2 linked regions of the Homo sapiens genome follow. The protein of the gene in region 1 purifies or fractionates together with the protein of each later gene. This does not show direct contact. Each region holds a gene or a part of one and is shown on either strand. Other genes may lie near its edges.

Region 1 (4,760 bases):
GGGCCATGTAGGAAAACAAGGGTCCTGGCCAACCACAGTGGCTCATGCTATAATGACAACACTTGGGGAGGTGGGAGGATTGCTTGAGGCCAGGAGTTTGAGACCAGCCTGAGCAACATGGCAAGTCCATGTCTCTACAAAAGAGAAAAAAGAGATAAAACAACGGTCCTTATTCTTCTCAAGGCTCAGGGGCCCTGACCCAAAGAAATGGAAAATGAGGGGATGGGAAGAGGGGATCAGGGCTGAGAAGACTGGGGTGGCTGTCAAGAACAGATGAAACCTCGGTGCTTCTCTTGCTGGAACATATGTTGGTGGGAGGTGGGTGGCAGGACATCTCCATCTGGTCACTCACTAATTCCAAACTCCATGTTGCCTCCCATTATAGGGCTTCTTTGAGCTGTTCCCTTCTCTAAGCCATAATCTCTTAGTGGATTGAGCCCTCTTGGAAAGACTTCTCTGCCATCCCTTTGCACCTGAGAGGGGAAGTTCTCAGCTGAGCTGAAGCTGGATTATTAAAGTGGATTGTCACTCAGACTCTCCGTGCTACGCTTATTTGGAGACTAGAGGAGTGGGAGTTGAGCCTGGCTTGAACCTTTGGAACCAGAAAAGTTGGGGAGCAGGTGGAGGAGGCCACACTCCTGGGAGCTGATGGTTTTAAATCTGGTTTTAAATCTCTTCTCTGTCTCAAGTCCATGTCTGAAGTGGGTGAAGGGTGGACTGGATCCTCAAGCAGAAGGTCACTTCTCCCACCCCTAGTCCTCCACCTGGGAAATGGCCTCAACGGTCTTCCCTCTTTCCATCCCCAGAATGGGTGTCCCGCTCTGCCTTCAGAGATCCTGTTCTGCACTGGGCCACCTTCAGAGCTGCTCTGGGCAGACAAAGCTGTTTCTCACCCTCCCAAAATCCCTTCCCATCCCCTCTCAGGAGCTGCAAAGAGAAGGGCACAGTCTATACCTTATCACCCTTCATCATCCACTTCTCAGCAGTCCCTGGTATTACTTGATTGTGAACATATTATCAGGAAAAAAGATTATCATTGAAAAAATTGGAAAAGTCAAAGTCTGGCCGGGTGCAGCGGCTCACATCTGTATTCCCAGCATTTTGGGAGGCCAAGGCAGGTGGATCACTTGAGGTCAGAGTTCAAGACCAGCCTTGCCAACATGGTGAAACCCATCTCTACTTAAAAAAAAATACAAAAAAATTAGCCAGGCATGGTGGCACACACCTGTAATCTCAGCTATTCAGGAGACTGAGGCAGGAGAATAGCTTGAACCAAGGAGGCGTAGGTTGCAGTGAGCTGAGATGGAGCCACCACACTCCAGCCTGGGCAACAGAGCAAGGCTCTGTCTCAGAGAAAAAAGGCCAGGCGTGATGGGTCATGCCTGTAGTCCCAGCACTTTAGGAGGCTGAGGTGGGCGGATCACCTGAGGTCGGGAGTTCAAGACCAGCCTGACCAACATGGAGAAACCCTGTCCCTGCTAAAAATACAAAATTAGCCGGGCGTGGTGGCACATGCCTGTAATCTCAGCCACTCCGGAGGCTGAGGCAGGAGAATCGCTTGAACCCAGGAGGCGGAGGTTGTGGTGAGCCAAGATCCTGCCATTGCACTCTAGCCTGGGCAACAAGGGTGAAACTCTCTCAAAAAAAAAAAAAGAAAAAGAAAAAGTCAAAGCCTGCTTATAAACCAACCTCCTTCCTTCCACTAAAATAATTGTGCAAACTGGTGTCCTTCCAATCTTTTTGATACCTATATAAAAGTTTATTTCCATATAAATATTCCACTTCAGCTTTCTAAAAAACTTAATATAATATAGAGATATTTCTATATCAATACATATAAATTTAATTTAGCAATGGCAAAAAGTTAGAATTCATCTAAAGATTTCTCAGTAAAGGCAAGCCCAAATACACTATGAAATGTCCATTATAGGTAGCTATTGAGAAAAAGATAAATTGTATAGTGTGTGTACTAACATGAAGAGATTACAAAGACATTGTTGAGTAGAAAAGGCAGGTTGCAGAACTGGACACAGGACAAGGAGTACCTTCAAAACATTATATGGCCAGGCACGGTGGCTTATGCCTGTAATCCCAGCACTTTGGGAGGCCGAGGTGGGCAGATCACTTGAGGTCAGGAGTTCAAAACCAGCCTGGCCAACATGGTGAAAACCTCTCTACTAAAAATACAAAAAAAATTAGCCATGCGTGGTGGTGGGTGCCTGTAATCCCAGCTACTCGGGAGGCTGAGGCAGGAGAATAGCTTGAGCCAGGGAGGCAGAGGCTGCAGTGAGCCAAGATTGAGCCACTGCACTCCAGCCTGGGCGACAGAGCCAGACTCCGTCTCAAAAAAAAAATTATTATATATTTTTATGTGTATATAAATATGCACGTAGATGTATACATGTATAGAAAAAGCCTGGAAAAATGCACCTGAAACTTTTACAGTGATCTTCTGGGTTGGGAGTGACAAAAGGGCCTTAGCCTTTTTGTAATGGTTTCCTTTTGTATAACAGAATGTACCATGTATTACTTATGTAAAAAATTTTACCCTCACACTGTATTTACTCTTACAATTGGCGTACAGTATTTTATTGTATAGATGGTCATTATTTATTCAGTCTGTTAATAATGGTCATTTAAGTTTTTCTCCAGTTGACAACTCTAAATAACATTGAGATAAATGTACATATATCATTGTACATTTGCCTTGGTTTTTCCCATGGGATAAATTCTAGAAAATGCCAGCTGAACTATAGTGACAGCAGACCAGTGGTTGCTTGAATGTCAAGGATTGAGAGAGAGTTTGGTTGCAAAAGGGTGCAAGAAAACTTTTAAGAGGGTGATAGAAATGTTACCCCAGAGGTGGAAGAAAATCCACATATAAATGGACCTGTGCAGTTCAAATTCATCCACTTACATGTGGATTTGTCCCAATAAAAGTTATACCGGCCAGGTGCGGTGGCTCACACCTGTAATCCCAGCACTTTGGGAGGCTGAGGTGGGCGGATCATGAGGTCAGGAATTCGAGACCAGCCTGGCCAACATGGTGAAACCCCATCTCTACTAAAAATACAAAATTTAGCAGGTTGTGGTGGTGGGCGCCTGTAATCCCAGCTACTTGGGAGGCTGAGGCAACAGAACTGCTTGAACCTGGGAGGCGGGGGTTGCAGTGAGCGGAGATCGCACCACTGCACTCCAGCCTGGGCAACAGAGCAAGACTCCGTCTTGGAAAAAAAAAAAAGTTATACCAAGTATGCCTGGCTCTCCTGAACCCCCACCCCTGCTACCCCCTATTCTACCTCCTCCGCCTCTTCTCCCACTGTTGCCCCAACCAACCCTTCTCTTCCTCCTCCTTGGCCTACTCAACATGAAGACGACAAAGATGAAGACTTTATGATGATCCACTTCCACTTAATGAATAGTAAATACATTCTCTCCCCCCCCCACCTTTTTTTTTTTTTTCAGACAGTGTCTTGCTCTGTTGCCCAGGCTAGAGTGCAGTAGCAAGATCTTGGCTTAGTGCAACCTTCACCTCCCAGGTTCAAGCGATCCTCCCACTCAGCCTCCTGAATAGCTGGGACTACAGGTGCCCACCACCATACCCAGCTAATTTTTTAATTTTTTAAAGAGACAGGGTCTCACTACATTTCCCAGGATGGTCTTAAACTCCTGGCCTAAGCATTCCTCCTGCCTCAGCATCCCAAAGTACTGGGATTACAGGCATAACATTTTCTTTTCTCTAGCTTATTTTATTGTAAGAATACAGTGTGTAATACATAGAATATACTTCATATGTGGTAATCTGTTTATGTCATCAGTAAAGCTTCTGGTCAACAGTAATTAAGTTTACAGGGAGTTAAAAGTTATACATGAAGGCTGGGTGCAGTGGCTCATGCCTGTAATCCCAGCACTTTGGGAGGCCGGGGTGGGCGTGTCACCTGAGGTTCGGAGTTTGAGACCAGCCTGACCAACATGGAGGAACCCTGTCTCTACTAAAAATACAAAATTAGCCGGGCATGGTGGCACATGCCTGTAATCCCAGCTACTCGGGAGGCTGAGGCAGAAGAATCACTTGAACCCGGGAGGCAGAGGTTGTGGTGAGACAAGATTGTGCCATTGCACTGCAGCCTGGGCAACAAAAGCGAAACTCCATCTCAAAAAAAAAAAAAATTGGGGTATTATTTCCATATAATAAATTATACACTTAAAGTGTAAAATTCTATGAATTTTGACAGATATACCATATACACCTGGGAAACCACCACCACAATCAAGATACAGAACCTTTCCATCATCCTCTTGTACCCCTTTGCAATCAATCTCTCTCTCCACTCCTGACGTCCAAGCAACCATTGATCTGCTTTCTGTCACTATAGATTAGTTTACCTTTTTTAGAATTTTCTTTTCTTCTTTTCCTTTTTTCTTCTGAGACAGACTCTCATTCTGTCACCCAGGCTGGAGTGCAGTGACGCCATCTCGGCTCACTGCAACTTCTGCCTCCTGGGTTCAAGCCATTCTCCTGCCTCAGCCTCCTGAGTAGTGGGGATTACAGGTGCGTGTCACCACGCCCAGCTTTTTTTTTTTGTATTTTAGTAGAGGCGGGGTTTCATCATGTTTGCCAGGCTGGTCTCAAACTCCTGACCTCAGGTGATCTGCCCACCTCAGCCTCCCAAAGTGCTGGGATTATAGGCGTGAGCCACCACGCCCAGCCCCTTTTATCTTCTCTTCCTCTTTCTCCTTTTTTTTTCCTCCTCCTCCTC
Region 2 (5,075 bases), on another chromosome or scaffold:
TTTATTACCACCAGTTATGTAGTAAATCCCACCAAGTATCTCCGCATTCATATTTTGTTTTAAAATCCTGTGTGAGATGTGTTTTAGATTTACTGGTGAGGAGTGCAGTCCCTGGGGTCTGTAAGCCAGAGGTTTCTCATCTGTCAGTAGGAATGATAACACCAACTTGGAAGGTTTGTGTCTCTGGTGCCTTGTCTGGCTACAGAGTAGGCCCTTAAGTATTTCACCCCCCTGTTAGGTCCATGTCTGAATTCCAATCATAGGTGCAATGGGAAGTTGAATATTTAGTAACTGAAGTACAATATGGAAAAACAGAAATAGAGAACACATTTGGTATTCATGTCCCAAAAACTTTAGGGAGAAATTGATCACCTGACCATTTGGTATTCAAGGTCCCAAATACTTTGGGGAAAAATTTGTGGTATTAAAATCAGGTATCAATTACTTGATAACTCCTTGACTTTCGATGTTACCCTGGCAGGTTCAAAGGGATGACCTTGATTTTTTTTCTCTTTAGGCTGTGGAACCCTACTAATATTGGATCCAGATGAAGCTGGGCTAAGGCTTTTTAGAAGGTAAGGGGGCTGAAATTATTAAAGGTATATATTGTTGCTATTAAAGCCTTAATAGAATTAGGTTTTGACTCTTTGATTAATGTTTTAATATACAGTATAAAAGGAACCTTGGCGTTTGCATAGGATGAAGCTTATTTTTAGCTGATTGTGGTGGTGCGCACCTGTAGTCCCAGCTATTCCCAAGTCTGAGGCAGAAGGATCACTTGAGGCCGGGAGTTCAAGACCAGCCTCGTGGGCAACATAGGAGGACCCCGTCTCTAAAAGAAATTTTTTTTTTTTATGCACAGAGTCTGGCTCTGTCACCCAGGCTGGAGTACAGTGGCGCCATCTTGGCTCAGTGCAGTCTTCCCCTCCTGGGTTCAAGTGATTCTCCTGCCTCAGCCTCCCAAGTAGCTGGGATTATAGGTGCCCGCCACCACACCCGGCTAATTTTTGTATTTTTTAGTAGAGATGGGGTTTCATCATTTTGGCCAGGCTGGTCTCAAACTCCTGACCTCAGGTGATCTGCCCACCTTGGCCTCCCAAAGTGGGTATTATATGCGTGAGCCACTGGGCCCAGCCTAAAAATTTTTTTAATTTTTAGGCCGTAGTCCCAGCTACTTGGGAAGCTGAGGTGGGAGGATTGCTTGAGTCCAGTTCAAGGCTGTAGTGAGCTGTGATTGGGCCACTACACTCCAGCCTGGATGACAGAACAAGACTCTTTCTCTCAAATAAAAAACAAAACAAATCTGAAGCCTGTCTCTTAGTGTCCACTCATAAATTATAAAATTTAAACATAAAAAAATGTGGAGCAGTATACTGTGTACTATTACATTTTTGGACTACTACATTCCACTGGACTGTTTTTTTTAACCTTTCTGAATCTGTTGCCATATTTGTCAAGTACCTACTCTACTTAACTCCCGTAGTTGTGCAGATTACATGAGATATACGTGTTAAAATGTGTGATAAATTGAAAGAAAAAAAACCATAATTGTTATTTTTTTTGTTGTGTAGCTGCCTATGTAAGTGTTGTATTTTTTTGTTGTTTGTTTTTTCCTAGTGTAGCTTTGACTGGAATGATGGTTTGTTTGATGTGACTTGGAGTGAGAACAACGAACATGTCCTCATCACCTGTAGTGGCGATGGCTCGCTGCAGCTCTGGGACACTGCCAAAGCTGCAGGGCCACTGCAAGTCTATAAAGAACACGCTCAGGAGGTAGGAGGGAAATCTTTCTGGGCTGATTATTTTTCTTTCTTCGACTTTGGTTGAAATCCATTTGGGGATGGACACATGGAGAAATATCTTCAGGGGACAAGTTTAAACGTTAGCATTTCTTATACATACTAGATGTCACTTATTATTTGATTATTCAAACATAAAGTACCTCTTGGCCTAAGGAGTGGGGAAAGAAAAGAAAAGGTCAGTCTTCTCATTAGGCAGAAAGAACACCTCCAGCAGTGTACTCTGGCACCATTTCCTCCTGAGAGGCCCATCACTTTCTTTGTGCTCTAAGAATGTGCTTGCCACATGGTGCCTTAAGGTAGAGGTAGGTGGACTTTTCACATAGACATCACAAGATTGCCTTTGGGGCTTCAGTGAGATTCCCGAGGTGTTTCAGAGTATATTGGAGCAAGAGCATAAAATACTGAGTATGAGGCAGAACTTACTGAAGGGATTTTATATCTAAATCTGGTTCATGTGTCTAGATTTTGTGTGTGTGTATGTATAGCATAGAAAATAGTTTGGGCTTCAGTTGTACTAACATACATGTATATTTTCAGTGAACATAAAGACATCCTCTTTTTGTGTTTTTACCTTAAATGTTTTAAGATTTTCCTTAAGGGAGCAGTACATCCTTCAGATGAAAACTTGCTAATCTACTTTCAAATTTTTGTCCACCACAGTGCCTGGCCCGAGAAGGCCCTCAATAAATGCTTATTAGATGCAAGAATATCAGTCTTTTGTGGTAAAGATTAGTTATGTGAGGGGTCCAGATGTTTTATAGCTGTAGCTATTGACAATCAAGATTTCTAAGATTGTTACTGAAATAATGAAAAATTTTAGTTTCTATTTTAATTATGATAGCTATTTGAATAAATGTAGTTGTAAATTACTATGTTTTCAGGGAATTACTGAATATTAAGACAATTTTGGTAAAGGAGAAATTTTAGTTTCAGGATAATCAATGCACGAATCTCTACAGAACAGTATGTCCAAAATTCAGATACTTTTGTGGAACCTGTGTGAATTTGTGTGTGTGTGTGTGTGTGTGTGTGTGTGTGTGTGTGTGTGTGTCAGGGTCTCACTCTGTTGCCCAGGCTAGAGTGCAGTGGTGCAATCTTGGCTTACTGCAACCTCCACCTTCTGGAATGGGCTCAAGCCATTCTCATGTCTTAGCCACCCGAGTAGCTGGGATTACAGACGTGCGCCACCGTGCCCTGCTAATTTTTGTATTTTTAGTAGAGACGGGTTTCACCATGTTGGCTAGGCTGGTCTTGAACTCCTGGGCTCACATGATCCACCTGCCTTGGCCTCCCAAAGTGCTGGGATTATAGGCGTGAGCCACCGTGCCCAGCCAATTTTTGTGTGTGTGTGTTTTTTTGTTGTTGTTTTTTTTTGTAGAGATGGAGTTTCGCTATGTTGCCCAGGCTAGTTTTTGTGATGTTTGACATCTTTTTATACCACTTGTATTATAATGTATTTCTTTTCCTTCTTTCTTTTTTAAAAAATATTTTTCTTTTCAGAAGTTTTTTTTTTCCTTTTTCTTAAATCTTTGGTGCCTTTTATTATCTATATAAATTCAAGGATGATAACTGACATCATAAAATAATATAGCTAGTTAAGGTAAATTCAATATATTGACTTAATGTTTTTCTTTCAATCAAGTAAAGTCGTTGCTTCATTTATCCTAAAACAGTAATATTCATGAAACAATGGGGTTGATGGCTACTTTAGTATGTACATTTATTTGTTTTTAGTGTACATTGAGATAAGTAAGTAATGAATAAAATAAATGTATGTACCAGTTAAAATAATCTCTGGTGTAACTACTCTCTGGAAAATACTGTTCTAGGATATCCTGGATGGATGCTCACTCAGTCTTTACTTCCTGTCAGTGAAAGTAAATTTCACTTTCTCTTGAGATAACTTATTTGACTTTTAGGTTGTTCTGATTATTAAGAAACTGCTTCTTGTAATCCCAACTCTACCTTCTATAGCAACCAACTGCTGCTTTTAGTGTCTTTCTCTGAAGTGGCAAGACCAGGTCCAGCCCCTCTTGTCCAGGAAACCTCTTGAAAATAGCCATCGTGCTCTCTTCCAGACTGTGCACTTGTCATTTCATTGTCCTGTCCTCAGATGACATGATCTGTACGTCTTTCATCCTTCTGATAGCCTCCTTTGATAATCCTGTTTTTCAACTCCCCTTTCAACATATACCTAATTTATTCCAGAAATGTGATGAAGGGCTAAGCTTTATAAGATTTTACCACCATAGTCTTGAGCCCCTAGCTCTAATAATATTACCTAAAGTGGCTATACATTGTTCTCAGCCATGTCTTAGTGTTAGGTTACTTTGAGTCTGCTAGTAACACACTTACCTCTTTTGTTATTTGAACTGCTATTAAACCAGTTTTACATCATTCTGTGATTTTGCAGCTGATTTCTTGAACCGAAGACACACTTCTGTTTTTTAATTTTTTAAATTTGTTTTGCGTACTGCTATTCTAGTTAGACTTCCTCGTTTTCTTTTCAAATGCACTTTTTGGTAAGCGTTTGTATCAGGATGCCTTGAATGTTAGTGTAATAGAAAACAATTAAATGGCTTCAACAGTCAGAGTTTACTGTTTCACATATTTTGCTTGGTTATGTGAAAAATAAATGAAGATAACCTTTTTAGGTATTTGTTACAGCAGCACCCCTAATTCTTGGCACCAGTTTCTGCCTCAGTCTGTTCAGGCTGCTGTAACAAAGTATTATAGACTGGGTGCCTTATAAAGAACAGAAATTTATTTCTTACTATTCTGGAGGTTGGAAGTCCAAGGTCAGGGTGCCCACATGTTTGGGTTCTGATGAGGGCCCTCTTTTAGGTCAAAGACTACTGCTGTCTTTTCATTGTATCTGCAGGTGGTGGAAAGAGAATGAGAGAGGTTTGGGAAATCCCTTTTATAAGAGCACTAATCCCATTCATGAGGGCTCTACATTCATGACCTAATTACCCCCCAGAGGCCCTACGTCCTAAAACCATTACACTGGGGGGTTAAGATTTCAACATGTGGGTTTTGTGGGGATATATTCAGTCCATTGCATATGCCAGATACTCAAAAATACTTAAAAGGATTTAAGCTCAAATGAGAGTTTTAAGGAGCTAGTAAATATTTGTTGAATAAATTAATAAATGAGGCTGAGTGCAGTGAGTCATGCCTGTAATCCTAACACTTTGGAAGGTCGAGGTGGGCAGATCACTGAAGGCCAGGAGTTTGGGACCAGCCTGGCCAACATGGCGAAAACCCCGCCTC

The links. Proteins that work in one complex are often made in the same cells at the same time.
Region 2: the proteins of DNPEP (region 1) and PEX7 purify together in Homo sapiens (co-immunoprecipitation; one large-scale study listed by IntAct). This does not show direct contact.

Annotation. Positions count from the first base shown.
Region 1 is NC_000002.12:219,369,968-219,374,727, reverse strand, and holds the end of DNPEP (aspartyl aminopeptidase), read left to right. Parts: intron 1-385; coding exon 386-436; 3' UTR 437-2,685; downstream 2,686-4,760.
Region 2 is NC_000006.12:136,824,697-136,829,771, forward strand, and holds part of PEX7 (peroxisomal biogenesis factor 7), read left to right. Parts: intron 1-517; coding exon 518-575; intron 576-1,622; coding exon 1,623-1,773; intron 1,774-5,075. UniProt on the Homo sapiens protein: Receptor required for the peroxisomal import of proteins containing a C-terminal PTS2-type peroxisomal targeting signal. Specifically binds to cargo proteins containing a PTS2 peroxisomal targeting signal in the cytosol.